Linked DNA regions of Homo sapiens. The protein of the gene in region 1 interacts with the protein of each later gene in a pairwise test. Each region holds a gene or a part of one and is shown on either strand. Other genes may lie near its edges. The genes, in order: CEACAM6, SHC3, MSS51 and HPCAL4.

The links.
Region 2: the proteins of CEACAM6 (region 1) and SHC3 interact in binary tests that used the Homo sapiens proteins (3 or more experiments, as listed by UniProt).
Region 3: the proteins of CEACAM6 (region 1) and MSS51 interact in binary tests that used the Homo sapiens proteins (3 or more experiments, as listed by UniProt).
Region 4: the proteins of CEACAM6 (region 1) and HPCAL4 interact in binary tests that used the Homo sapiens proteins (3 or more experiments, as listed by UniProt).

The regions. Positions count from the first base shown.
Region 1 is NC_000019.10:41,765,507-41,772,534, forward strand, and holds the end of CEACAM6 (cell adhesion molecule CEACAM6 preproprotein), read left to right. Parts: intron 1-676; coding exon 677-753; 3' UTR 754-793; intron 794-5,295; coding exon of another isoform or gene 5,296-5,312; 3' UTR 5,313-6,705; downstream 6,706-7,028. UniProt on the Homo sapiens protein: Cell surface glycoprotein that plays a role in cell adhesion and tumor progression. Intercellular adhesion occurs in a calcium- and fibronectin-independent manner.
Region 2 is NC_000009.12:89,035,795-89,042,822, reverse strand, and holds part of SHC3 (SHC-transforming protein 3), read left to right. Parts: intron 1-638; coding exon 639-797; intron 798-4,534; coding exon 4,535-4,830; intron 4,831-7,028. UniProt on the Homo sapiens protein: Signaling adapter that couples activated growth factor receptors to signaling pathway in neurons. Involved in the signal transduction pathways of neurotrophin-activated Trk receptors in cortical neurons.
Region 3 is NC_000010.11:73,430,548-73,437,402, forward strand, and holds the start of MSS51 (putative protein MSS51 homolog, mitochondrial), read right to left. Parts: upstream 3,015-6,855; 5' UTR 2,966-3,014; exon of another isoform or gene 1-2,965.
Region 4 is NC_000001.11:39,681,419-39,688,446, reverse strand, and holds part of HPCAL4 (hippocalcin-like protein 4), read left to right. Parts: intron 1-3,835; 5' UTR 3,836-3,843; coding exon 3,844-4,005; intron 4,006-4,294; coding exon 4,295-4,510; intron 4,511-5,713; coding exon 5,714-5,911; 3' UTR 5,912-7,028. UniProt on the Homo sapiens protein: May be involved in the calcium-dependent regulation of rhodopsin phosphorylation.

The DNA.
Region 1 (7,028 bases):
TCACTGGGTAAAACAGCCATGAGGGAAGGTGGAGCAGCAGTGACAGGAGAGCCTAAGAGAGCCCTCAGACCACGATGCAGATCTCATTCCTGAGAAGGAGAAAGAGAAGGAGGGAAGTTTTACATAGCAGTGCAGTTCTGAGTTTCCCCAAGACCGATGGGGAGTCCTTGAACCCCTCACCCATGAGAGTGAAGCAGGGTCTCACAGACCTGGGCTTGCTTTCTTTCCCCTGGTGGGAGCCCATGGGAAGTGAGTTCTCTGTGCAAAGAACATAGTAAATTCAGAATGCACTAGCCTGGGCCTTCTGTCCATCAAGTCCCTGCCATAGAGCTCCAACAGGCTCTTATTCATGGCTGCCACAATTGAGACACTGAGAAAAAGATGCAAACATAAAAATATAGAAAGTTCTAATGACATGCAAAAATAGCAATCAGACTTTCTCAAATTTTCAAAGCCTTCAAAAATGTCTGAGTGCAGAAAGAACAGGATGAAATTGACAGAAGACTGATCACCAACCTAGAAACGTGGTAAGAGAGAAAAAAAATTGCAACTTTCCCACAAAACTAGTGTATTCCTTGAAGGAACAAGTCAAGCCTACTTCATGTTGACAGCTAGTTCTTGGGGACCCCACTGTAGAATAACATCACCTTCATTCCTTCTCTCTTCTTCCCACAAGGAAGTGCTCCTGTCCTCTCAGCTGTGGCCACCGTCGGCATCACGATTGGAGTGCTGGCCAGGGTGGCTCTGATATAGCAGCCCTGGTGTATTTTCGATATTTCAGGAAGACTGGCAGGTATGATCGCCTTTCCTCTTGCCATGTTTCCTGCAGGGCTGACCACCATGCTTGGGAAAGGAAAAAAACTTCTTCACCTGTATCTGGGACTGGATCTCCTTCTACCGCTAAACTCCTGCTTCTCAGCACTAATTCCTGCAGGTCTCTTCTTCCCTGGTCTTCATGCTCCCTGTACCCCACTGTCTCCTAGATATAATTATCCCCAGCCTCTGCTCATTTGTTTCCTAGAGTCAATACATTGTCAAAGCCTCTTCGTCCTTTTTCAACATCTCTCACTTTTGTCAGTCTCTCCATTCCCATCAACCTCAATAATTGTTCAACATCCTGCTTGACCCCTTGTTGTAAGGTTGGAATCCTTCTTGCATATGACTGCCTCATTACCTTCCTAAAATCTAGTTCACTCACCTACTTAAGGAGCCAAAGGGGGCCAGGCACAGTGGCTTATGCCTGTAATCCCAGCCCCTTGGGAGGCCGAGGTGGGCGGATCATGAGGTCAGGAGATACAGACCATCCTGGATAACACAGTGAAACCCCGTCTCTAGTAAAAATACAAAAAATTATTCAGGCATGGTGGCGAGCACCTGTAGTCCCAGCTACTCGGGAGGCTGAGGCAGGAGAATGGCGTGAACCTGGGAGGTGGAGCTTGCAGTGAGCCGAGATCGTGCCACTGCACTCCAGCCTGGGCGACAGTGCAAGACTCCGTCTCAAAAAAAAAAAAAAAAAAAAGAAGCCAAAGGAACCTGCTCTGGCCTACTAGTTAAGTTCAAATTTCTTCTCTTTACTAATTCTTCTTACTTTCTTTCCCTCTACTTCCCAGTATAATTCCTCCATCTTAATTAGAATCTGACTCTCTACACATCCCTGCCCCTTTACCCCGGATGCACATAGAATTCTTAGTTTCAATGTTACACCTAAAAACAGGGTGATCTCCCCTCCACTACCTGCCCTGTGGACTTACTCACACCCTTCATCACAAGCAACCTCTTATTTCATGGAGAACACAGACTGTGTAGTATTAATATGTGAACTTTGGACACATCCTGCATGTGGCTGAGAACCTTTTCCTGACAATCAATTCATGTGTTCATAACAGATACAGAAATGAAGAAGGCAAGGTCCCTACCCCCAGGGAACATAAAGCCCAAGACAGGAGATAAGACCTGAAAAATAATCATGATACCAAAGTAGAAAGGAGCGAATGCCACAAAAATTCAGATAAATCTGATGGGAAATATAGCTACACATTGGAATCACTCCGAAACATTTTTAAAAACGGATGCTCAAGCCCCAACCATAAATTCTGATCTACTGATCTGGAGTGGGACCCAGGCATTGGTAATTTTTAAGCCTCTCCAGACGCTACTAATGTGTAGCCACGATGGAGGATCCCTGTTCTAATAGGTAGGACTTGGGGCTAAACCCATGGTTTTTAGCTAGGAGGATTAGAATTACCTCTGGAGCTTTTTCAACATACATGGGCCTATACTTTGTTGGCCTAATTCATTAATGGGCTCCACCAAGAACTCAGTAATCTAACTGAGAAACAGAAACTAAAAGGAAAAGCCGCCTTATTTGATATGTTACATTATATGGGAAGCACTGTCAAATGATAAGTGATGCTAAACCTTCTCTAAGTTATATTTATGGTTATGTTATTGATGTGAGTGTTCCAAAAATTATAAGAGATTCCCAGAAATCTAACAGATTATAAGCCATAATGTCATATGCCACAGAAGTAACTAAATGTCTATGGGAGATGCATTCTTTTTTTATTTTTATTTTTATTTATTTTTATTTTTTTTTATTGATCATTCTTGGGTGTTTCTCGCAGAGGGGGATTTGGCAGGGTCATAGGACAATAGTGGAGGGAAGGTCAGCAGATAAACAAGTGAACAAAGAAACAAGTGAACAAAGGTCTCTGGTTTTCCTAGGCAGAGGACCCTGCGGCCTTCCGCAGTGTTTGTGTCCCTGGGTACTTGAGATTAGGGAGTGGTGATGACTCTTAACGAGCATGCTGCCTTCAAGGATCTGTTTAACAAAGCACATCTTGTACCGCCCTTAATCCATTTAACCCTGAGTGGACACAGCACATGTTTCAGAGAGCACAAGTTTGGGGGTAAGGTCACAGTTCAACAGGATCCCAAGGCAGAAGAATTTTTCTTAGTACAGAACAAAATGAAAAGTCTCCCATGTCTACTTCTTTCTACACAGACACGGCAACCATCCGATTTCTCAATCTTTTCCCCACCTTTCCCCCTTTTCTATTCCACAAAACTGCCATTGTCATCATGGCCCGTTCTCAATGAGCTGTTGGGTACACCTCCCAGACGGGGTGGTGGCCAGGCAGAGGGGCTCCTCACTTCCCAGTAGGGGCGGCCGGGCAGAGGCGCCCCTCACCTCCCAGACGGGGCGGCTGGCCGGGCGGGGGGCTGACCCCCCCACCTCCCTCCCGGACGGGGCGGCTGGCCGGGCAGAGGGGCTCCTCACTTCCCAGTAGGGGCGGCCGGGCAGAGGCGCCCCTCACCTGGGAGATGCATTCTTATCATAATGAACTCTCATCAGATGTTTAACCATACTCATTTTCAATCTTTGTCATTCACTGACAATTGTTTTTTGTTTTGTTTTGTTTGGTGGGGGGGTTGTTTTTTGTTTTTGTTTTTGTTTTGAGATGGAGTTTCACTAGTTGCCCAGGCTGAAGTGCAATGGCGTGATTTCGGCTCACCGCAACCTCTGCCTCCTGGGTTCAAGCGATTCTCCTGCCTCAGCCCCCTGCACAGCTGGGATTACAGGCATGCGTCACCATGCCCGGCTAATTTTGTATTTTTAGTAGAGACGGGGTTTCTCCATGGTGATAAGGCTGGTCTCGAACTCCTGACTTCAGGTGATCCACCCGCCTCAGCCTCCCAAAGTGCTCGGATTACAGGCATGAACCACCGCGCCCAGCCCCGACAATTATTTTGATTCTTCCTTCCTTAAAGCATTTGCAATCAGCTACCATCCAAAATTGCTTCTTCATTGAGGATATTTACAGAAAATACTCCGACATGTACTCTTGAATACAAGTTTCTGATAACATTAAAATCATACCATTAGACTATTTAAGAATTTCCAAAATTTTAACAAACTGATAGCTTCATGAAACTGCCAACCAAGAGCAAGCAGAGAATTCATTTCATGAGACTAAAAGATAATAATGAAAATAATATTTTTATGATTTTTTATTTGAAATTTTGTGGATTCTTTGTTTTGTTTCCCAGATTTCAGGAAACATTTTTTCTTTTAAGCTATCTAGAGCTTCAACAATTTTGCGAACAAAAATTGAAACATCTATATTTTCTCCCTACCTGACTGCTCCAGAATTCGGAAATTATTCATGAATATTTATATGTTTATAATAATATCGTTATTTGCACAAAAAATATAGTTATTAATATTAATTGTTATAAAATAATTATTATTGATAAACAATTATTTGATGATCATTATTTAATAATTTATTAATATTTATTAATAAATTAATAATTATTATTTAACGACTAATTGTAATTGTTAATTAATATTAATATTATATAATAAATATAATAGTATAGTTATTTGCTCAATAAAAATCTGCTCCCTTTATAACAGGATACATTTGAAAACACTGGTTATATTACCCAGGCTTTGATTGGGATGTTATATTTGGGAATATACATAGATGAACCCATAGGCACTGCTGGCAAAGTCTGAAGTCGGCCTTGGTTTGGCTTCCTCATGTCAAGAGGTTTCTAAAAGTTTAATCTGAGATTCCTTATAAAAACTTCCTGTAAAACAAACTTGAAAAGACCCCAGGCTGGGCACAGTAGCTCACGTCGATAATCCCAGCACTTTGGGAGGCCGAGGTGGGTGAATCATGAGATCAGGAGTTCAAGACCAGCCTGGCCAACATGGCAAAACCTCGTCTCTGCTAAAAATACAAAAAAAAAAAAAAAAAAAAAGCTAGGTGTGGTGGCGGGCTCCTGTAATCCCAGTTACTCGGGAGGCTGAGGCAGGAGAATCACTTAAACCTGGGAGGTAGAGGCTGCAGTGAGCTGCGCTCCAGCCTGGGAGTGCATACATAGGCCTATACTATTCATGTGCGTACATGGGCCTATACTATTCATGTGCATACATAGGGCTATACATAGGCCTATACTCCTATTCAAGGAGAATCGCTTGAACTTGGGAGGTGGAGGTTGCAGTGAGCTGCACTCCAACCTGGGCAACAGGGCAAGACTCTGTCTCAAAAGGAAAAAAAAAAGACTATGTGGTCACCTGCTACTCTTGTTGCACTTATATAAAGAATGAGGCCAAGTTCGATGAGACTAAACTTATTTGGAAAACAAATATGTCTTACTGGGATTATCTTTGGTAGAAATAAAGATGCCTATGAAGAGAAAAATTATGTTGAAAAAAACTATAGTACACCTGTTATGACATCACAGCTCTGCTTATTGTTTTTTATTTTCATTATCCACCTATAGATTGGACCAGACCCTGAATTCTTCTAGCTCCTCCAATCCCATTTTATCCCATGGAACCACTAAAAACAAGGTCTGCTCTGCTCCTGAAGCCCTATATGCTGGAGATGGACAACTCAATGAAAATTTAAAGGGAAAACCCTCAGGCCTGAGGTGTGTGCCACTCAGAGACTTCACCTAACTAGAGACAGTCAAACTGCAAACCATGGTGAGAAATTGACGACTTCACACTATGGACAGCTTTTCCCAAGATGTCAAAACAAGACTCCTCATCATGATAAGGCTCTTACCCCCTTTTAATTTGTCCTTGCTTATGCCTGCCTCTTTCGCTTGGCAGGATGATGCTGTCATTAGTATTTCACAAGAAGTAGCTTCAGAGGGTAACTTAACAGAGTGTCAGATCTATCTTGTCAATCCCAACGTTTTACATAAAATAAGAGATCCTTTAGTGCACCCAGTGACTGACATTAGCAGCATCTTTAACACAGCCGTGTGTTCAAATGTACAGTGGTCCTTTTCAGAGTTGGACTTCTAGACTCACCTGTTCTCACTCCCTGTTTTAATTCAACCCAGCCATGCAATGCCAAATAATAGAATTGCTCCCTACCAGCTGAACAGGGAGGAGTCTGTGCAGTTTCTGACACTTGTTGTTGAACATGGCTAAATACAATGGGTATCGCTGAGACTAAGTTGTAGAAATTAACAAATGTGCTGCTTGGTTAAAATGGCTACACTCATCTGACTCATTCTTTATTCTATTTTAGTTGGTTTGTATCTTGCCTAAGGTGCGTAGTCCAACTCTTGGTATTACCCTCCTAATAGTCATACTAGTAGTCATACTCCCTGGTGTAGTGTATTCTCTAAAAGCTTTAAATGTCTGCATGCAGCCAGCCATCAAATAGTGAATGGTCTCTCTTTGGCTGGAATTACAAAACTCAGAGAAATGTGTCATCAGGAGAACATCATAACCCATGAAGGATAAAAGCCCCAAATGGTGGTAACTGATAATAGCACTAATGCTTTAAGATTTGGTCACACTCTCACCTAGGTGAGCGCATTGAGCCAGTGGTGCTAAATGCTACATACTCCAACTGAAATGTTAAGGAAGAAGATAGATCCAATTAAAAAAAATTAAAACCAATTTAAAAAAAAAAAGAACACAGGAGATTCCAGTCTACTTGAGTTAGCATAATACAGAAGTCCCCTCTACTTTAACTTTTACAAAAAAGTAACCTGAACTAATCTGATGTTAACCAATGTATTTATTTCTGTGGTTCTGTTTCCTTGTTCCAATTTGACAAAACCCACTGTTCTTGTATTGTATTGCCCAGGGGGAGCTATCACTGTACTTGTAGAGTGGTGCTGCTTTAATTCATAAATCACAAATAAAAGCCAATTAGCTCTATAACTAAATTTGTTGTAATTCTGTCTCTTGATGTGGGTTCACAGCCAGCCACGGCCAGTGGAGTCTCTCAGGCGGCGTCATTCTCACTCCGACCCTCCTGCCTTCCTCTTTCACTTACAAGGGCCCTTCTGAATACACTGAGCTCGCCCAGATTATCCAGAATAACCTCCCATCTCAAGATCCTTAACTTTACTTATTTGCAAAGTATTTTTGCCAAATAATGTAACATGCACATGTTCCAGGGATTAGGATGTGGACATTTTTAGGAGGTCATTATTCTGCCTAACACAAGTAACTTTCATAAACATCACCCACAACAAAAATTTGCTTT
Region 2 (7,028 bases), on another chromosome or scaffold:
GCCTCAGCACACCCATTGGCTAGCTGTGAAGTCACATCGAGGCAGCATCACTGCCTCAGCAGAGGGGGCTCTTCACTTGCACACCCACCCTGGGCTTCCTTCACAGACCCAGGGGCAGTAACTGCAGCCCTATTTTATAAGGAAGGAGTCTCTCTCAGTTCCTTAGGAGGTACAGAGCTTCTATTGTATTGCTTGAATGAAGTTAATTTATAAAGCATTTGCTTATATTTAAAAAGAAAACAAGAGCAATTAATATAAGGCTTGTGGTCCTTCTGCTCAGTTATTTGATCTTGGAGCATTTGTCAAGGAGAGGAGGTCAGGCATGTTCTGCCTGCCAGGCTCCTGCGGTCTTGGGGCAGCAAGGGCCAAAATTTTTGCTAAGGCCATCACAGTGGAGCCATCAAGGTGTCCACCCTGACATTGGCTGGCAGACCCCATGCTGATATGAAGGACTGGAAAACATCCTAGCTGGGTCACAGCAGTGTGTGGTGACAAGCTCAGAAGAGGAGAATATCACCCATAGGAATCCGAAGGAGGAGGTTTCCCATTTGCAGGCAGAAGAGCTTCTTTGTGAAAGGCTGGGTGGCTTGAATAGTGTCACCATCGTAAAAGAAAAGGGGCTCACTTTCTTGTTGCAGGGTCCTCGGACATCTACAGCACGCCAGAAGGGAAACTGCACGTGGCCCCCACGGGAGAAGCACCCACCTACGTCAACACTCAGCAGATCCCACCACAGGCCTGGCCGGCTGCGGTCAGCAGTGCTGAGAGCAGCCCAAGGAAAGACCTCTTTGACATGAGTGGGTTTCTGTTTGTCTCTGGTTTTCTTTTCTTTTGAGGTTGCTTTTTATCCTGCCTTTTATTTGAAATCTGTGTAATTACTGAATTTTCTGATAGTAGGGTTTTGGTTAATGGTGATGATTAGCTGTACTTTTCTGGGTGATGATTGGGTTTGTTTAAGGCTTTAGGATTATAGCCCTCTCTGTAGTCAAGAGACAGAGCAATTTCCCCCTCTTTTTGGAATTGACGTTCCTCTTGAAGATCTGCAAATGTATTGAGACAATATACATACACAAATGTTTATTTATTCATTTAAATAGTAATTGGCTATTATGTGCCAGCTACTGTATTAGTTGCTAAGGATGCAAAGATGAAATGGCATGGCCCGTGTTTCCACGGATCTCTAGGTCTATGAAGCAGACCAACATTTAACATATAGGCAAGAAATTGCAACACACCTCTCTCTTATGAGGGTTTTCTCTCTCTTTCTCCTCTCCTCCCACTTGTGCTCTCATTTTTTTCTCTCCTTTTTTCTCTCTTGCTCACCTTTTACCTCACTCCAAATATTTACTGAACACTTACCATTTGTCAAATACTATTCTACTTGATGGAGATATACAGGAAAACAAAACCAGCAAAGTCTCTACCTCGTGGAGGTATCTATTACCAGGTAGTGGTACATGCTCCTCAGTTATGAAAACTAAACAGGATAAGGAGAGTAATAGGAATCTATTGCAGATAGCATTATAGTGGGATGTGTACCACAGACTTTCTGTTTGTCATATAGACTGAGGAAATTAAATCGTTCATGAACTGATTAATGAAAGTGAAAATTTTTGTTAAAAAATTTTGAAAGAGCATCACAAGCTCACAAGAGCTAAATTTGCTTTTCATATTCCTCGAGAATTTTATAGGCTGAAGAGGGAGGGAATGGAGACTAGTTCTGAATGATTTTCTACCATGTGCTAAACACTTATTTTTAAATTTTTACAGGTAGGTATTACGATAACTACTGTTATCTTTATTTTACAGAGAAGGAAACGAAGAATCCTAGAAGTTAACTAACTTTATCATTTGTGAAAGGCAGCCTTGCTGGTCCAATATCTGTGATTTGTGGTATTTTGTATGAGTGAGGACAGTGTTAAGTGCCTTTATAATTAGGCAGCCTCATGAAAACAACACTGTTTCTCTCCAGCAAATTTGACTTCCCAGACACACTGGACCCCCATTTTGACTTAACAAAAATAATCTAAGCAAGAACTGTAGAATCTTAATGCTTGAAGCCACCTTCAATGCTAGATCACCTAATTCAGTCCCGCCAGTGCCTTTATTTTTAAAAATGTGAAAACAGCTTGAGAAATGTGAAGCCACTTTTTCAAGATGCAAAGCACAGTGGTGGCTCTCCAAGCTTTTGCTGGAGTTGTTATAGTACCTCCAAACTGCAGTTTAATAGTTCCATGTCTGGTTAGACCATTTTTACTGTTTAATATAGTCAATTTACCAATGACTCCTGGACACGGACCCTAAGGAAAGTTAGATTGGCTGGTGTTTGGGATGAAAAAATGAGAACCAGAGCTACCCTTTTCCCACCAGTTAATTTCTCCTCCTGCTTTCAAAACCTAAGGAGGGGAAACAGGATGTGAAAAGAGCCTTAGAAAGGCTGGTGCCTATTGAAAAGTATGGAACTAAATAAAGCCAGCACTCTGTGTTCTTTATTTTGAACCAGTAGATCTAAATATAGCGGTGCTGATGTGATGATGGTGGTGATGATGGTGCTGCTGCTGATGGTAATTTTGATGGTGGTGGTGGTGGTGATGGTGGTGGTGATGATGATGATGGTGATGATGCTGCTGATGGTGGTGGTGTTGATAGTGATGATGATGGTGATGATGATGGTGGTGATGCTGCTGCTGATGGTGCTGGTGGTGGTGATGATGGTGGTGATGATGCTGATGATGGTGCTGGTGGCAAAGGTGGTGGTGGTGATGGTGATAATGGTGGTGAGATGGTGGTGATGCCGATGGTGGTGGTGGTGGTGGTGGCAATGGTGATGGTGATAGTGCTGATGGTGCTGATGGTGGTGATGCTACTGCTGCTGCTGTTACTGCTGCCGCTCCTGTTGCTGCTGGTGACAGTGATGGTGATGATGATGGTTATGCTGGTGACAATGATGGTGATGATGATGATGATGACAATGGGGATGATGGTGATAATGGTGATGATCCTGATGATGCTGATGGTAATGGTGGTGGTGATAATGGTGAGGGGATAGTGATGATAGTGTTGATGGTGGTGATGCTATTGCTGCTGCTGCTGTTGCTGGTAGTGACAGTGATGGTGGTGACAATGATGGTGATGATGATGGTTATGATGGTAACAATGGGGATGATGGTGATAATGGTGATGACGATGGCGACGATGGCGGTGATGCTGATGGTGGTGGTGGTGCCAATAAAAGTGAATGTGGGGATGGTGGCGATGTTGGGGATGATGCTGACGATGTTGATGATGTAGATGATAGCAAAGGTGGTAATGATGTAGAAACAGTATAAAACAAATGACAATTCCAGGTAATCAGGAAAAAAGTCAGATGAAAAAGAACTTCCACAGACATAATTTTTGCCAATGGTTCTAACTTATTTTTATCTCCAAATCTGTCAAAGATTAATAAGCATCAAAAAGAGCTAATTTTAGTTTCATTTACTCACCTCACTTCTGCCCACGCTGTACTAACATCGAACAAGTTTGGCTTATTTTACAGCATCTGTTGACTATACTGAATGAACTGTGTGCTAGGAGCAATGCTGGGCTCTGAGGGTGTAGTTATGCTCAGGAAAGAACCACTCCTGTTCTTGTGCTGCTTATGTTGTATGTATGTGTATGCTTATGGGTAGACAGCGTAGTCTGAAATAACCATCGCACTACCTTCCACTTGCATAGCACTGTGCATTTTTCAGAGTCCTTTCATACACACTACCTTATGTGAAAATCGAACATCGGGATTTAGTTAGACATGCCTGGCTACTTCTTTTGCTGCTGGTATTTCTTGTTAGAGCAGCAGTCTCACCATTCACACATGCCTTGCACTGAGAAGTGTGCTCTGAAGGGGATGAAACCAAGTATGGTCTCAGGCACTCATGTGAGAGCCTCGTTCCACAGGGAAACAAGTGAAGGTTAAGGGAAGGTGGAGCTCCTAGCCTGGGGCAAGTCACACAAGAGGAACCCAACACCCGTCAGCTTTCTCTTTTAAAAATTTGCCTGATGCAAAGATTTTGAAATAAACCTTTGGTGGATTGGGCTCAGGTTTTGCATAAAATCAAAGCTTTGTAGCTTGTCTTTCCCTTTGGTATTGGCAGATTTTTGTTCAGAATTTGTTAAAGAGGCTGGCTGAAGTTCCAGAGAAAGTACGTGGCATGTGATATTCATGGCCTCTTGCAGCATGCAAAAATGAAGTCATTCCAGCTAGCTAGACAAAGGGTGTGCTTGACTCCTTGGCACATAGCACAACTCCCAGCTGTCTTGGGAAAGCAGACTCATCAGAAAGTCATGCCAAAATTTGGGCTGTGCTTTTCAATGCTTGTTATGATGGCTCTTGTTATATTACCAGCCAGTTAGTTGTCTCCATTGGTTTTTGTTTTCCCCTTCTGGAGGAGTTGCCTTTGCATTTCCATCTCTCTCACTGTATTTTTTTTTTTTTTTTTTTATCATTTGCTCTTCTTGGGATTGACTTGTTGCTGGTCAATATTGTTGATGACAGAACCTTTTGAAGATGCTCTCAAGAACCAGCCCTTGGGGCCCGTGTTAAGCAAGGCAGCCTCCGTGGAGTGCATCAGCCCTGTGTCACCTAGAGCCCCAGATGCCAAGATGCTGGAGGAACTGCAAGCCGAGACTTGGTACCAAGGAGAGATGAGCAGGAAGGAGGCAGAGGGGCTGCTGGAGAAAGACGGAGACTTCCTGGTCAGGAAGAGCACCACCAACCCGGGCTCCTTTGTCCTCACGGGCATGCACAATGGCCAGGCCAAGCACCTGCTGCTCGTGGACCCAGAAGGCACGGTGAGCACCCAGTGGGGGTGGGGCCGGACCTGCCAGTGGGTGCAGACCTGCCTTAAACAGTCTCCACTTTGTCAAATGCCCTCCACATTCCCACCTCTATCCACAAGTGCCTACTGAGTCCTCCAGGGGAACGCAGGGACAGACAACTCCTGTCATCAGGCCAGAGCCAGGAGCCAGGAGCCAGTGGTCAGGGCCCCACACAAGTTTTAAAACTTTTAGAATTATGGCCTAGGCTGAAAGCCTTGACTTTTATGTCCTTTAAAGTAAATAAATACAGAAACTGAGAGCATTTTCCTTACAAACACATTTCTAGTAGACAAGGAAGTACAGGCTCCTAGGCTTTTAATATTTATCTTGAATGCTTATCTCGAAAAGTTGAATCACTGAGGATTTTGTTCTAAGGCTGTAAAATGTGATGATCAGTAAATGAAACCCCCATTGCTAAGTCTCTTGTTTTCCCGTTTAGAGAAGTAACTCCTACTGATGTTGGCCATCCCTGGCACTACAGCTGTATCTGAATAATCCCGTAGGTTTGGCTGAATTTTTCATCTTCCCGTCAAGAAAGACATTCATCTTTACCTGGGGCATAGTCCAAGAATTGCTAAGTTTAATAAATGCAGTTAAATCAACCTAACCATTGAGTGAAATTCCAGGATTGTTTAAAACCTTTTATCCAGTGAAAACAACAAAGCAGGGTAGAGTTATTTAATAGGAGTTAAGAACATTGCATTTTCTGATTGACAGGGAGGGATGAAGCCTTTGTCTCAGTTGGACTGGAACACAATTAAACTGCATGTGTCGGGGGTGGGGGTGTTACCCAAGACAGTTTATTACCTCAGGTGCCAAGACTCAGTTGCCTGAATACCCCAGCTCCTGGCACTCTGAACAATTCCCCTTTCTGTCTCTGCAGAAGCAGCCACTTCCCACTTCCAGCCAGTAGCTAGTTCCTCTTTCCCTTCCGCGGAGACAGCCACTTCCTCATGAATGTAACCTATCTCCTTCCAATCCACCTTCTTTTTTTTTTTTTTTAACATATATGTACTTCTGAGAAAACATATTTTGTGTTTGTGCCTTTTAGAAATTTGCAAATTAGCCAGGCATGGTGGCGACTGCCTGTAGTCCCAGCTACTCAGGAGGCAGAGGTGGGAGGATTGCTTGAGCCCCGTAGGTCAAGGCTGCCCTGAACTGTGATCGCAACTACTCCACTCCAGCCTGGGTGATGGAGAAAGACTCTGTTTCAAAAAAAGAAAAAAGAAGTTTGCAAACATGTTATTGTTCCACAAATCCCATTTTGTTTCTTCCTTTTCCACCACTGTATATGTTGTTGAGATCTGTCCATGGTGGTTTCTGTTTATCAGATCATTACTGTGGTGGGCTGCCTGGGGCCCGTCACGTATGCAGTCCACATGTCACTTACTGAGCTCTCTTGAGAAGGATGACTAAGCTGCTACAAACTCTCACGCATGTTTTTCTCTGTACCCGGGGACGGTATCTCTGGGACAGGAGCCAAGAGTGGCGTTTTGGTCACAGGGTACACGTACATTGAATTTCCCTAGGGCTTGCATTTGCTTTCAGAATGGCTGAGCTACTAAGGCGCACACCAGCAACATCCTTGCTCTTCCTTGAGAGAGTCTCTAGGTTTGCTAGTTTGTGGGAGTAGGGAGAAAGGGAATACCTCATTGTTTGATTTGTAATTCTTTGGTTGCACTTCATTAGTAAATTAGCAGATTCTTCCTGTAAATTTTATGTTCTTATCTTTTCTCCATGTTTTTCTTTTGACTTTCAGATTGGGCTTTCTTGTTGAGGTTTTCAGCAACAGAATTTTCACATGTATTCTCTTGCTTTTTTCATCTATCTGATAATTTTGTCTGTGATACTCTTCATCAAATAGAAGTCTTTCATGGGATGCATCCGAATCCATCAGGTTTCCCCCTTTGTGCTTGATGGTTTTGACTTTTAAAGTTTTTCTCCCCCACAAATCACAAATATACTGGATTTGAATATATATTTTCTTTTGTTAGCTTTATAGTTTTATCTTTCACATGTAGACTTTAATTCCAACTGAAGGTACTTTTGAATATGAAATGAGATAGAGACCCAATACACACACACACACACACACACACACACACACACACACATCTATATATATATATATATATTTTGTTTGTTTGTTTTTTGCTTGTTTTTGTATTTTT
Region 3 (6,855 bases), on another chromosome or scaffold:
ATCAGAACCACAGTGAGATATTACTTCATACCCACTAGTATGGCTATTATAAAAAAAAAAAACAGAAAATGACAAGTGTTGATGAGGATATGGAGTAATTTGAACCCTCGTACACTGCAGGTGAGAATGTAAAATGGTGCCACCACCATAGAAAACAGTACGGCAGTTCCCCAAAAAGTTAACATAATATTACTATATAACCAGAAATTTCATTCTTAGGTATGTGCCCAAAATATTTAAAAACAGATACTCAAACAAATACTTATATGTGAATGTTCATAGCAGCACTATTCGCAACAGCTAAAAGGTAGAAACAACCCAAAGGTCCATCAATGGATAAATGGATAAACAAATTGGGATATAAATATACATATGAAGATGTATATTATTCAGCTATAAAAAGAAATGAAATACTGATACACGCTACAATGTAGAGGAACTTCAAAAAACATTATACTAAGTGAAGAAAGCCAGACACAAAATGTTGTATACATGTTGTATGATGCCATTTCTATGAAATATCCAGAATAGGTAAACCCAGAGACAGAAAGCAGATTGGTAGTTGCTAAGGGCTGGGTGGAAGGGAAAATGGGGAGTAACTGCTTAATGGTTATGGGGTCTTCTTTTGGGGTGATAAAAATGTTTTGGAACAAGACAAAATTGATGGTTGAACAATACCGTGAATACACTAAATGCCATTTAATTGCTCACTTTAAAATTATTAATTTTATGTTATATGATTTTCACTTCGATTAAAAAAGAAAGGAAGGAAGGTATTCATAGAGATTGAGAGGCTAAAAAGTTATTAATCCCCAGATTGTCTTCAGGTACAGAGAAATAACAGAGGATTAAAAACGCTGGCAGTGTGAATGAGGAAACTGTTAAAGTTCAAACCAGGGATCATGTTTTGTTACAAAAATGATCTGACATTTGATCCTTCTAGATCAGATCTGTTAGGAAAAACCTCAGAATCATCATGCAGCTGAGGTGTATGCAGGTGGCAAAAATAAACAAAAAGCTCCCAGAATTATCCAGCTCATATCCATATCTTACAACATGACTCTTAAAAACCTGTCCTCAGGTTAATGGAGGAACAAATTTGTATTTTCCTTTGTACTTTCTATCTCCTCATCCTTATGTTTCCATCCACCCTCTTAATGTCTCCCCTTATCCCATGGGTGAATGGATGGTTTCAGTCCACAGAACAGAAATAGTCAAGCTCATCTGTATACCATATCCTATATATTACCTTCAATGAAGAAATTGGACCTAATGATATTAGATTATCTTAGGGTTTAAGGGTCATGTCCTTTTACCAAAAGAGTAAATGGAATTGCCCTTCACACTTTAGGGCCCAATTTCCAACAACTAACCTCATTCTGTCCTCCACTTTTAATCACCTCACATTCTCATTGCATTTTCAGAATCACTGCCATTCTACAAAAAGCATTTATCTACTCTACCCACCTGCCTCAGGCAAGATAACATTTTCTTTTTCTTTCTTTCTTTGAGACAGAGTCTCACTCTGTCACCCAGGCTGGAGTGCAGTGGTGCGATCTTGGCTCACTGCAACCTCCACCTCCCGGGTTCAAGTGATTCTCCTGCCTCAGCCTCCTGAGTAGCTGGGATTACAGGCTCGCGCCACCATGCCCAGCTAATTTTTGTATTTTTAGTAGAGATGGGGTTTCACCATGTTGGTCAGGCTGGTCTCGAACTCCTGACCTCGTGATCCACCCACCTCGACCTCCCAAAGTGCTGGGATTACAGGCATGAGCCACGGCGCCCGGCCAAGACACCACTTTCTTAAACCTTGAAAGAATGACTTTTTTTTTTTTAAATAGGTATGGAAGGAAAGTGTGATTTGAGACAACTCTAGGGTCTTAAATCCCAGAATTTATAATAGATATCTCCCTGAAGTTAAAACATAAGCCTTTTTGCTGCAATGGAAGCAAGCCACTTAAGGTCAGAAAGGTACTGCTTTACTTTTCCGCATTTCCAAGGTGAGGTCTTCCTCTAAAGGAAGATTAGCTCTTGGCAATCTGGGAGTTGGCTGAACTGGTCAGAAAGCAAAAGGATCACACAGTTTGAGGAAGAGGAGTGGTGGTAAAAATCCCTAATGTCACAGTCTCCTCTGTGTCTAGAGCACAATGTTCATGATACAAATGAGTTAGCTTTCTGGCAGAAAAGAAAGAAGGTGGGTGAGAAGCCAGGTCTTTGATCTGCATCTATATACATCATCAGGTTCATGTTTGAGTTTATATACCCCAGGCCCAGACACAGCTTCCCTGGTTCTAAATCTCCTGTAAAGAGCCCCAGGCTACTCCCTGTTCACAGGTTATAAACTGAGAGAAACAAAGGAAAAAACAGGGGACTCACAGGAGAAGCTGGAAAGAATTGCAGTAAGCTCTTTGAACTTTCCAGAGTCTAGAATGCTCTCCACTTAGAAAGGGAATCCCTTTCATTTTTTTCTAGCCATCCCCAGTGACTTAGGCTCTAATTTAGTCCCAGTATAAGAGAGAGAACACCAACACCAAGAACTGGAGAGGAGACATGATCTTGATTGCCTAGAAAAACTTTTATCCTTCATGTCCAAATTCAAGACAAAATATTAATCTATTCCTAGACCTAGGTTTCCCATCTTCTTCTTTACCACCAAGAGTCCCAAGTTTCACCTAAACTACAGTCATATTTTCACTATCTCCAGATAAGGAGTGCTCATCTAATTTTCTGTAAGTCACCAAAAAATGCAAAACGTCTTTGGAGAGGTAGGGAGAAGGAAGACTGAAACTGGTCATTGGAGATCCTTATAAGGGGGTAGGAAAAGAGAAGGAGAAATACATTAAGGACACTGTAATTATGGCCACATTCAGCTGTTTAATCAGTGATTAACACTGCCTGGGGTGATAAATACTTTACTCAATTATAAACTAAGCAAGCAGACAGGTTGACGGAAAAAAAAACTTACCCTGCTAAGTCCTCAGCTTCCTTCCTTCTCTCTTTCCTCCAAGTGAAATGAGTGCTTGATCTCTTCAGATCTAGGTTGTGGCTTACTTGCAGCTGTCCCTTCATATCACTTTCCTTTGCAAACTGCTGAAATGCTGAGTCTCAGTGATTAAGTGTGCCCTGCCAACCAGACAGACAAGGCTGAATTCTCCCTAATGAGGCAAAGAGGGATCTGTCCCCCTGCCTGAGGGCTTCTCTCTAACCTTTGTTCTCTGCCAAGGGGGCTCAGGACTGTCAACACTCCCAAGTGTTAGCCAAGTAAAGGCCAGGCAGGCTGACAAAAAATGAAACCTGCTGCTTCCTAGACTTCTCTCACTCAAGGCAATATTTCTGTTCTCAGTTTACAGCTTCAGAAGAAAACCCTTTGGATTAGTGCAGAAGTCAATATTTGATTGGAAAGGGTAAGCACCTTTCCAACCAAGTGGGAGGAACCAGAGGACCCTCTGGAGTTCTGTTTGTTGATCTAGACACAGGATGAGTTCCCCCAGGCCTGGTGTCCTTTTTCAGCATAACAAACATTGTTCAAACAAAACTCAACAATGTCCAATCTTGGATTAAGTAGAAGGGAGAAAATAAATGGCCATTTAATGGTACAGAATGAAATCAGTTGTAGGGGAAACATGCAGAATTAACTTGTAAAATTCACTTTCCCTGAAAGAAGGGTAAGATAACTCTCTGAGTGAGAGAGTCATCAGGAGCACTTTACCTGTATTAAGAGAGGAATAAATGCTTCTGGGATATTAAACAAAACCAAAATACTAGTTAATGACTAAAAATACATACTATTTCTAGGAAAAGAAAATAGAAAAGAATCAGCTCAACCATTCTCTTATCCTCCTTGTAATTGCAGCTGATCCAGGAAATTCAATTCCACAGTCCTAGCTTCTTTCTACTTACAGCTAGCCTATCTGAAGTTGTTAGGGCAGTGGTCCTAAAAGACTGCAAGATCTTTCTTACCCTCAAAAAATTTTTTTAAAATTTTTAAATAAAAAAGTTCTGACTTTCTGCTTATATCTGACCCCAGCTCTCACTTACCTGCTTCTTTGAACATCATCAAACTGGGGAACAGAATCACTCGCAATGAGGTCCCGGAATGTGGCAAATCAAATCCACACAGGAACCCCAAACTGTAAAAAGTACAAACTACATGCAGGGAAGGTGGAAGAAAAGTGTTAAGGATTCAACCAAACACTGCATAACATTATGTAGAATAGCTGTGGATAAAGGAAAATCAGTTGCAATAGGCAAAAACCCTAAATAAAATAGGGGTAATTCACTTTGTGCAAAAGTTTCAGGCCAACTTCAAATTTAACAGGCTTCAAAATTTATCTGAGAACCTCAAATGTTTTGAGTTCTGTTAATAATGGCTGAACTGCAGAAGATACAAGACATCAGAGATTGACTTTTCTAATTCAGAAGTTGTCAATGAATATAAAGGAGAATAGTAATATAGAAAAACTTTGATGTTGAATACTTATATTTTACTATCACTATGACTTGCTCTGGTAAACATTTAAAGTTACGAAGTCTGAACTTTTCACAATTTGTATTCATCATGAGTTGCATTTAAAAAATCTTAATAAATGGTATGCTGTGAAATGAATTATGAAGAAAGACTAGAAAGAGGTTCCTATTCAACATGTAGGAAGTGGTCTGTGAGGCACTATGTGATACTTTATCACTCTTCAGGTATTTTGCTTTTCCTGAGTTTGGTTCCTTTCTCTTATTTTCCTCTTAATTTTTACCATCAATCCATAGTTTTTTTGCTAATACTACTTAATGCTCACCCATGATTCCCACAAACACTATATAATGCTAGTTATGTACCTAAGGGCTAGGAAAGTTCCTGGCACCTAATATACTAGTTAAACTCTTACTTACTTTTTAATTTTTCTATTGGGTCTATTTTAGCCAGATAAACTCTTTACTGAATAGCTTTCATAAAACAACATCGACAACAATCTTTAAGGTATGCAACTTTCATAAACAACATAGACAACAATCTTTAAGGTATGCAATGCATAATAACTTTAGAGCCAACTCATGGACTGCTTTGTAAGTTAATATTTTGGCAAGCAGAGAGTTATAATAATTAACAATTTGTGGCCGGGTGCAGTGGCTGACGCCTGAAATCCCAGCACTTTGGGAGGCTGAGGTGGGCGGATCACGAGGTCAGGAGTTTGAGACCAGCCTGGCCAACATGGTGAAACCCCATCTCTACTAAAAATACAAAAATTAGCCAGGCGTGGTGGTGGGCACCTGTAGTCCCAGGTACTTGGGAGGCCGAGGCAGGAGAATTGCTTGAACCCAGGAGGCGGAGGTTGCAGTGAGCCAAGAGCATGCCACTGCATTCCAGCCTGGGTGACAGACAGAGATTCCGTCTCAAAAAAAAAAAAAAAAAAGCAAAAGAAAAAGAAAAAAGAAACAATTTGAGAAGTTCTGTTTGTTACCTGGAATTAGGCAAGCATGTGTGTGTGTGTGTGTGTGTGTGTGTGTGTGTGTGTGTGTGTGTGCGCTTGCCTAATATATTTACATATATTTTGTTTGTTTTTAAGGGATGGGGTCTCACTCTGTCACCCAGGCTGGAGTACAGTGGTACAATCATAGCTCAACACAGCCTGCAACCATGAGCTCCTAGGCTCAAGCAATCCTCTGTCTCAGCCTCCCAAAGTGTTTGGATTACAGGCATGAGCCACTGTGCCCTGCCTATATTTTGACTTAGTGTTTTATAATATATCTCATTGTAATTATTGTTGAGAACTATAATTCAAGTTATTGTATGATTATATAATTTTGAGCAATATCCTAATATCCCTCAATGTGCAAAATCCTATACTTATTGTGATTATGACAAAGAAGAAAGGAATGATAGGAAAATGCAATTATCACTAATATTTTTCTTATTGTTAGAACACCCAGTAAATTCCCAATACCACTATAACAAAATTCTAGACAATAACATATTTTCTTTCAATTAAAAGACAATAAACAGTGATCTTAAATATTAGACTTAGGAGGCCTACAGTAGGCATTCAAAGTCCTCTAGTGCTCAGTTACTAATGCTCATGTAAAACAAGTATATAACAAAAGTTTTTTTTAAGGCAAAATTTATAAAGAATTTAATTAATCAAATTACCATGAACTATCCACGAGATAATCTCCGGAGGACATCCCAGCTCTAGTAACAGGATTTTCTGATTTGCATCAAAAGGACAAATCAGATTGCATCTTCCAAATAAAACCCAACACAGAGATAGGAGCAGCGGCCCATGCATGGAATTTATTGTGTGCTACTGTTTATAAAATACTCGAATAGTCCTGCACATGCATAATATTTCCAACTTAGACAGGAGACCATACAGGGTGCACTTTCTGGCAAACAAAACAATAGATGGTTCCGCTGCCTGGAGCTCTGAGTTGTATTCCAGGGCATGAGGGAAGCAGGCCACCAAAGTAAAGGGAAATACCAAACTACAGTGGCAATCAATACAGGTCAATAATTGTGAAAAATTAGCACATGGTTCCATTTAGTTTAACCAAGCAGTTCAGTAACTATCAAAAGAAAGGTTTCAACATGCAGTCTTGACTTTTATGCTTCCACTAACATCTGAATGATTGAACAGAACCATTGCTTCTAGGCTGCATTGCTTAATCAAAAACACTTCCAGAACATTTTAAAATTTCCTTTGCATTAAAACATAAAAATGATAGAAAGCCAGCAGCAAATCACCCTGGTGGCTCTCTAAGCAACTTGAGTACTCACAATAAACTAAAATTTCTCATAACATCTAGGTAACCTATACATGTCGTACCTGTACATCATAGGTCTATATATTAAATATTTGCAAAATG
Region 4 (7,028 bases), on another chromosome or scaffold:
TTCAAAATAAGAGACAACAGGACTTGATGGCAAGTTAGACCTAGGGCAAAGGGAAGGGAAAAAATGAAGGTAACTAAGATTGTGTTCCCCACACCCCGGGGATGAGGGAGAGAAGGAAGGGGCAACAGAGACAGTCTGACCATCTCTGGTTGGGAGCGAGTCTGGCTGTAGACTTGCTGTCTCAGAGGTGCTGGTGGACACCCCTAGGGTGGCTATCTCCTGGGTGTCAGAGATTGTGGCCCCAGATGGTTCCACTGCGGCCAAAAGGGAGATCAGAGCTCTGATTTTCCCAGAGGGCAGATGTGGGTGGAGAAGGTCTGTGCTGAACAAGAGTAGCCATGATTTGGAGACGGTGGCCCAGGCAGGTAGCACGGATTCAGCCTGAGTGCTCATCTGGGCCCTCCCACTGACCTGCTGTGTAACCCTGAGCCAGTTTTCTCCTATCTCTCAATTTCCATTTTCACTGAAATAAGGGGATGATCTTAAAGGGCACGGCCAGTTTTGACCTTCTTTTCTTAATTTTTTATTTACTTATTTTTTTTTTGAGACAGGGTCTTGCTCTGTTGCCCAGGCTCGAGTGCAGTGGCTCAATCACGGCTCACTGCAGCCTCAACCTCCTGGGCTCAAGTGATCCTCCCACCTCAGCTTCTGAGCAGCTGGGACTACAGGCACATGCTACCATGTCTGGCTAATTTTTAAATTTTATGTAGAAACAGGGTTTCCTTATCTTGCCCAGGCTCAGCTTTGACCTTCTGATGATCTAGAGGGAATGAGGAGAAATAAAGGAGGAGGCATAGTCTGGGTCTGAGACCCAATAAAAGCAGGGAACAGGAAGGACCCTAGGAGACAGAGAATTGTGGAGAAGGCAGCACAGAGCAGGGAGGAGAAAAGGGGTATAAGGTGAGAGCCACACAGACACTGTGACACACACAGAGAGACGTGTGCACTCTGACAGATTTGCAGCCTCAGACATTGACATGCTCCCACACACAGACCCAGCCCCTCATGCTGACTCTCAGGCACATCCTACGGAAGACAGCTGGAGAGGCTGTGCCTCCCCCCATCAGACATCTCTGCCTGACTTCTCCAGCTTCCTTGACTATACCCTGAGCCTTGAGAGTCCTTTGGATTTGGGAGAGGGGTGAGGCCTGCCTCCTTTTGCCTATGGGTGTTCCAGAGGCATCCTTGCTCTGGCCTCAGTGTAGCCATTTTCCGCCCAGCCTCAGGTTCCTGAAGATGGCATGCTCCCCCTCCCTGGCTTTTCCTGAGGGCATACAATTCCTCATCCTCTGGGAGTGGGGAAGGATGTTGCTACCTGCACTGCTCCTTGGTCTTCCTTATGGCCCAGTGGAGGAATCTGAGGCCCAGAGAGGATCTGTAACTAGCCTGAGGTCAGCCCAGCAAAGGGGAGTGGGAAGGAATGGACCAACCTCAGATTTGCTATTTAGTGTTTTCCCAGTTGTAAGAATTAGAAGCCCACTGGCAGACATCGGGCTATGGGAGTGGAATTCCTTCTGCCAGCCCAAGGGCTTCCTTTTCCAGAGTATCTTGAGGACAGGCTACCTGGGGTGGGAGCCTGACCCTCTTCCAAAGAGACTCTAGGCAGGTCAGAGGCACCTCCCAAGCCATGTCCTGGGAAACCCAGACTCTGCAGGGACATTCCTCCCAGGGAGGTCAGAGAGGAGGGTCCACTCTGCCTTCAAGGTCTGGCCACACTTCCTGAGGAGGGCCTGTACCTCTTCAAACACTTCCCCTGGCACAGCCCACTTACGGGCTCACATTCCCACTGGGGAATAACTCTTGATCCTTCCCAAACCTGCTTCTCAGCAACAACACTTCTATCCACTGAGGCTCAAATCTGAGCCTCTGCCTCAACTCCTCTGTTCCTCTTACTCCCACATCCAATCAACTGCAAAGTCCTGCCAGTGCCCTTCTTAACGTCTCAGCCCATCCACGTCTCTCCACGACCCTTACTCTGGCAGCATTGTCTCTCACCTGAACCGTGTAGCAGGCCCCTCCCTGCTCTACCTACCTGCCCCCACCAAAGGTCATCTTGCATGCTGTGGCCAAAGGAAAAATTCTTTTTTTTCTTTTTTGAGACAGGGCCTTTCTTTATCGCCCAGGCTGTAGTACAGTGGTGCCATCTCAGCTCACTGCAACCCCTGCCTCCCAGGCTCAAGTGATCCTCCCATCTTAGCCTCCCAAGTATCTGGGACTACAGGCATGCACCACCACACTCAGTGAATTTTTTTTTTTTTTTTTTTTTGAGACGGAGTCTCACTCTGTCGCCCAGGCTGGAGTGCAGTGGAGCGATCTCGGCTCACCGCAAGCTCCGCCTCTGGGGTTGATGCCATTCTCCTGCCTCAGCCTCCCAAGTAGCTGGGACTACTGGCGCCCGCCACCATGCCTGGCTAATTTTTTGTATTTTTAGTAGAGATGGGGTTTCACTGTGTTAGCCAGGATGGTCTTGATCTCCTGACCTCGTGATCCACCTGCCTCAGCCTCTCAAAGTGCTGGGATTACAGGCGTGAGCCACTGCGCCCGGCCAATATATTTTTTTTTTTTTTGAGGTGGAGTCTCACTGTGTCACCCAGGTTGGAGTGCAGTGGCGCGATCTCAGCTCACTGCATGCTCTCCCTCCTGGGTTGACGCCATTCTCCTGCCTCAGCCTCCCGAGTAGCTGGGACTACAGGCGCCTGCCACGACGCCCAGCTAATTTTTTTGTATTTGTAGTAGAGACAGGGTTTCACCGTGTTAGCCAGGATGGTCTTGATCACCTGACTTCGTGATCCACCCACCTTGGCCTCCCAAAGTGCTGGGATTACAGGTGTGAGCCACCGTGCCCGGCCGCGCCCAGCCAAATTTTTAAATTTTTTGTAGAGACTAGGTGTCACTGTATTGCCTAGGCTGGTCTCAAACTCCTGGCCTCAAGCTGTCCTCTCATCTCAGCCTCCCAAGGTACTGGGATTATAGGCATGAAATACGGTGCCCAGCCTGGAAAAATTTTAAAACACATACCTTTTCTTGGGTCCCCAGTGACTCGTTCAAGACTGGGTATATCATAAGCATTCTGTAAATATTGTGGAATGAATGCAATCTTCCCAGCCCTTGTTTTAAAAAATCCCAGGAGCGTCTGTTCCCTCCAATTTCTTGGCATGGATTGGAGGCCCTTTGTAACCAACCATCTGCCTCTTTGACCCAGTTACAAGTTATTGAAGGTTGGCTCATGTCTGCTTCATCTCCATCACTGGCACAGGGCCTAGCACACAGTCAGTCTCAATAAATGCTCAGGGAATGAATGGATTAATGAAAAGCCAAATGTCAGTAGAGGATTTCTATTTGTATAGAGGAAAGAGGGAGAGAAGCTCCCTGCTGGGGTGGCCCAAGAAAGCCTTGAGGAAGAAATTGGGAGACAGTGCCAAGGGGACACACAAGGAACCTACCTTGGGTCCCTTCTCAGGACAGAAGCCTGCCAAGGAGGGTGGGGGCTGACTTCAGAAAGCCCTAAATGGCAAGGAGAGGAGTCAAGGCCTTAGTCTGTGGGCAGGGGAGCCATGAAAGGTGTGAGCAGGAGGGGAGAGGATGAAGACTGTGGCGTGCTGCACGGTCAGTGAGGAGGAGAGCTGAGACCTGGAAGGCGGGAGACCCCCGGGGCTAGGAGAAGAAACCTACCTGAATGCAGGTGTTGTGAGGGGAGAGGAGGCCCCATTATGGGGGAGTGTCATGAGGGGAAGGAACCTGCAACCCCGCCCTGTGTGTGGCAGGGGAGGGGGCAGCTGTGGCTGAGGCAGGGCCTTTCCCTGGACCCAGTCGGAGGAATCCCTCTGTCCCACAGGCCCCGCCATGGGGAAGACCAACAGCAAGCTGGCCCCCGAGGTGCTGGAGGACCTTGTTCAGAACACTGAGTTCAGCGAGCAGGAGCTGAAGCAGTGGTACAAGGGCTTCCTGAAGGACTGCCCCAGCGGCATCCTCAACCTGGAGGAGTTTCAGCAGCTCTACATCAAGGTGGGCGGCCGGCACCTGGTGTGAGGGAGCCAAGTACCCGGGTTGGGGGAGGCGAGGAACCGGGGGTGAGGGAGGCAGGGCACCCTGGGATGAGAAGAGGCGAGGCACCCGGGGTGGGAGGGGAGGCGAGGCACCCGGGGTGCGGGGGAGGTGAGGCACCCGGGGTGGCGGGGGCAAGGCACCCGGGGTGGGAGGAGGCGAGGCACCCGGGGTGCAGGGGAGGTTCCCTGAGATGGGGGCGGGGTGGGCGGGGCTGTCGCTGCGCCCCAACCCACCGCACCCCCCTCAGTTCTTCCCCTACGGCGACGCCTCCAAGTTCGCGCAGCACGCTTTCCGCACCTTCGACAAGAACGGCGACGGCACCATCGACTTCCGGGAGTTCATCTGCGCCCTGTCGGTCACCTCCCGCGGCAGCTTCGAGCAGAAGCTCAACTGGGCCTTTGAGATGTACGACCTGGACGGCGACGGGCGCATCACGCGCCTGGAGATGCTGGAGATCATCGAGGTGCGGGGCCGCGCGGGCGCTGCTGTTCCCGAGGCCAGCGCTTCGCCATCCCCGCCCCTGCCTCCGCGCTGCTCTCGGGCTTCGGGGCCTCCCTGCTGCTCCCCAGCCTGCGATCCCGCCTCCTACCACCCCGCTACAGGCCCGGGCTAAATGCTTTACCCGACACTCGACGGGGCGGAGGGGTTGGTTACTGTCCCAAACCCCATTTGGCAGAGGAGGAAACGGCCGGGTTCCTGATTCCAATCCAGGGAGTCTGACCTCATAGCTGATGTTTTCAACTCATTCTGTCAACAGGCAGGGATTGAGCGCCTGCCAGTTCTTGCTTTCATGGGGCATTCCTTCTAGTGAGAAATTTTTTTAAAAAATAAATGAATGAAGACATGCGGGGTCAGGCCGTAGGTGCTATGAGGAAGATACACTAAGCAAAGTGCAGGGAGAGCGCGTGATGGAGAAGTTACTTTATATAAGATGGAAAGTTAGCAGCAGCCTGAATGGGGTGAGGCCTTTACTGCAAGATGCCTGGGGGAAAGCGTTCCATGCTGAGGGGCAATTAAGGCAGGTCGGCCTTTCTCTGCAGAGTTCAAGGAGGGGCCAGGAGGCCCGGTGGTGGGAGAGCCATGAGAGGGAGAGAGTGATAGGAAGGTGGTCATACGGGGAGCCAGGAGCCCCATCAGTAAGGTCTCCACGGAGTTGGGCTTCTGGCATGTTTCATCCACATAAATATTATTTAGTCTAAATAAAAAATTAGTTGAGGGCTGGGCGTGGTGGCTCACGCCTGTAATCCTAGCACTTTGGGAGGGTGAGGCCGGTGGATTACCTGAGGTAATGAGTTCGAGACCAACCCGGTCAACATGGTGAAACCCCGTCTCTACTAAAAATACAAAAATTAGCGGGACGTGTTGGTGCATGCCTGTAATCCCAGCTACTCAGGAGGCTGAAGCAGGAAAATCACTTGAACCCAGGAGGCAGAGGTTGCAGTAAGCCGAGATCGCGCCATTGCACTCCATCCTGGGCAACAAGATCGAAACTCTGTTTCAAAAAAAAAAAGAGTTGCTCATTAAATATCCAGTCTTAATGACCACATATACCTTCCAGTATCCTCACCAACCCCCAGTGTTCTCCCTGCCAGATCCCTTTCCTTCACCCGCTGCTTCTCGGGGCCCCTTGTGGGTGTTCACACCTCCCTCCTCCTTCCCTCACCAGGCAATCTACAAGATGGTGGGCACCGTGATCATGATGCGCATGAACCAGGACGGGCTCACGCCCCAGCAGCGTGTGGACAAGATCTTCAAGAAGATGGACCAGGATAAGGACGACCAGATTACATTGGAGGAGTTCAAGGAGGCAGCCAAGAGTGACCCATCCATTGTGTTGCTGCTGCAGTGTGACATGCAGAAGTAGAAGCTGGTGAGGGGCAGGGTCCCTGGCCAGAAGGGGCATGGCCACCTCCCAACCTGATGACCTCTCTGGCTGGCCTCCCAGGAGGAGGGACACTCCAGCCCCCCTCTCTGGCCCACCCAGTCCTCTGCCCAAGCCCTTCCTCCCCTCCATCAAGATCTTTGAGGGACCACCTCACCCTGCAAAAGAGACAGGTCCTCCAGTACCCTGTCTTCTAGCCCCACCTCCCACTTGGCCAGAACCAATGTCCATTGGGCATAGGGGAGTTGGCTTTTGCCCCAGGAGGTGAGGTTAAGGAGTTGGGGGCCTGGGGTTCTGGTTAGGAATTCTCTTGATCCTGGGATTATGCTTTATAGGATGTGGTCCCACAGGCCTGTCACAGGGCCAAATTGGGTCTGTCCATTCCTGAGGCTCCAGATCCCATAAAGGGGGTCTCTTCCCCATCCCTTCTACTCTACCTGGCCCTTCCAGCCCCAGCCTTTGGAGCGTTCATTCAGTCCTTTCTTCAGCTAATGATTACTGAGCACCTGTTTGGTGCTAAGGATATGGTCATTTACAAGACACATCTTGTGCCCTCTGGAAGCTCATAGGGTTGTGAGGCAAACTTCCAGCCGTCAGGGTCTCAGCTAAGCAGAAGGTGCTGGAAGGCTGGTTAGTCTGGGAGGAGCTATTTCATCTTCCAGCTCAGCTCCACACAAAGCTGCAGAAGGACGAAATGAAAAGCATTTGGAAGTTTAGGAGCCACGTGAGTGAAAGTTTTAAGAAAAATGAAATTTATGTCATACTTATTTTTTTAGTACCCTTTAAAGGAGCTACAGTCATTTTATTATTTCAGGAGGTTAAAATATACTCTATATTACTTGGTTTCTTATAAAATGATTAAATGAATAGAGAAAATATTAATTTTCAAGGGGAAAAAACCTGAGAAGAAAGGGAGAAAAGACCATGAAATTTACCAGATAACACTTTTTAAGACTAAGTCCTGAGCTGCCACTCTCAGCAGTTTTTGCTGCTTCAGCTCTTCCTTTTTATTACCTTTTTCAATTCAACAAGCAACTTTCTGCTACATACTTACTCCGGTTGGGTGCTGACTTCAGGGACAGGAAAAAGCAAGGTTTGC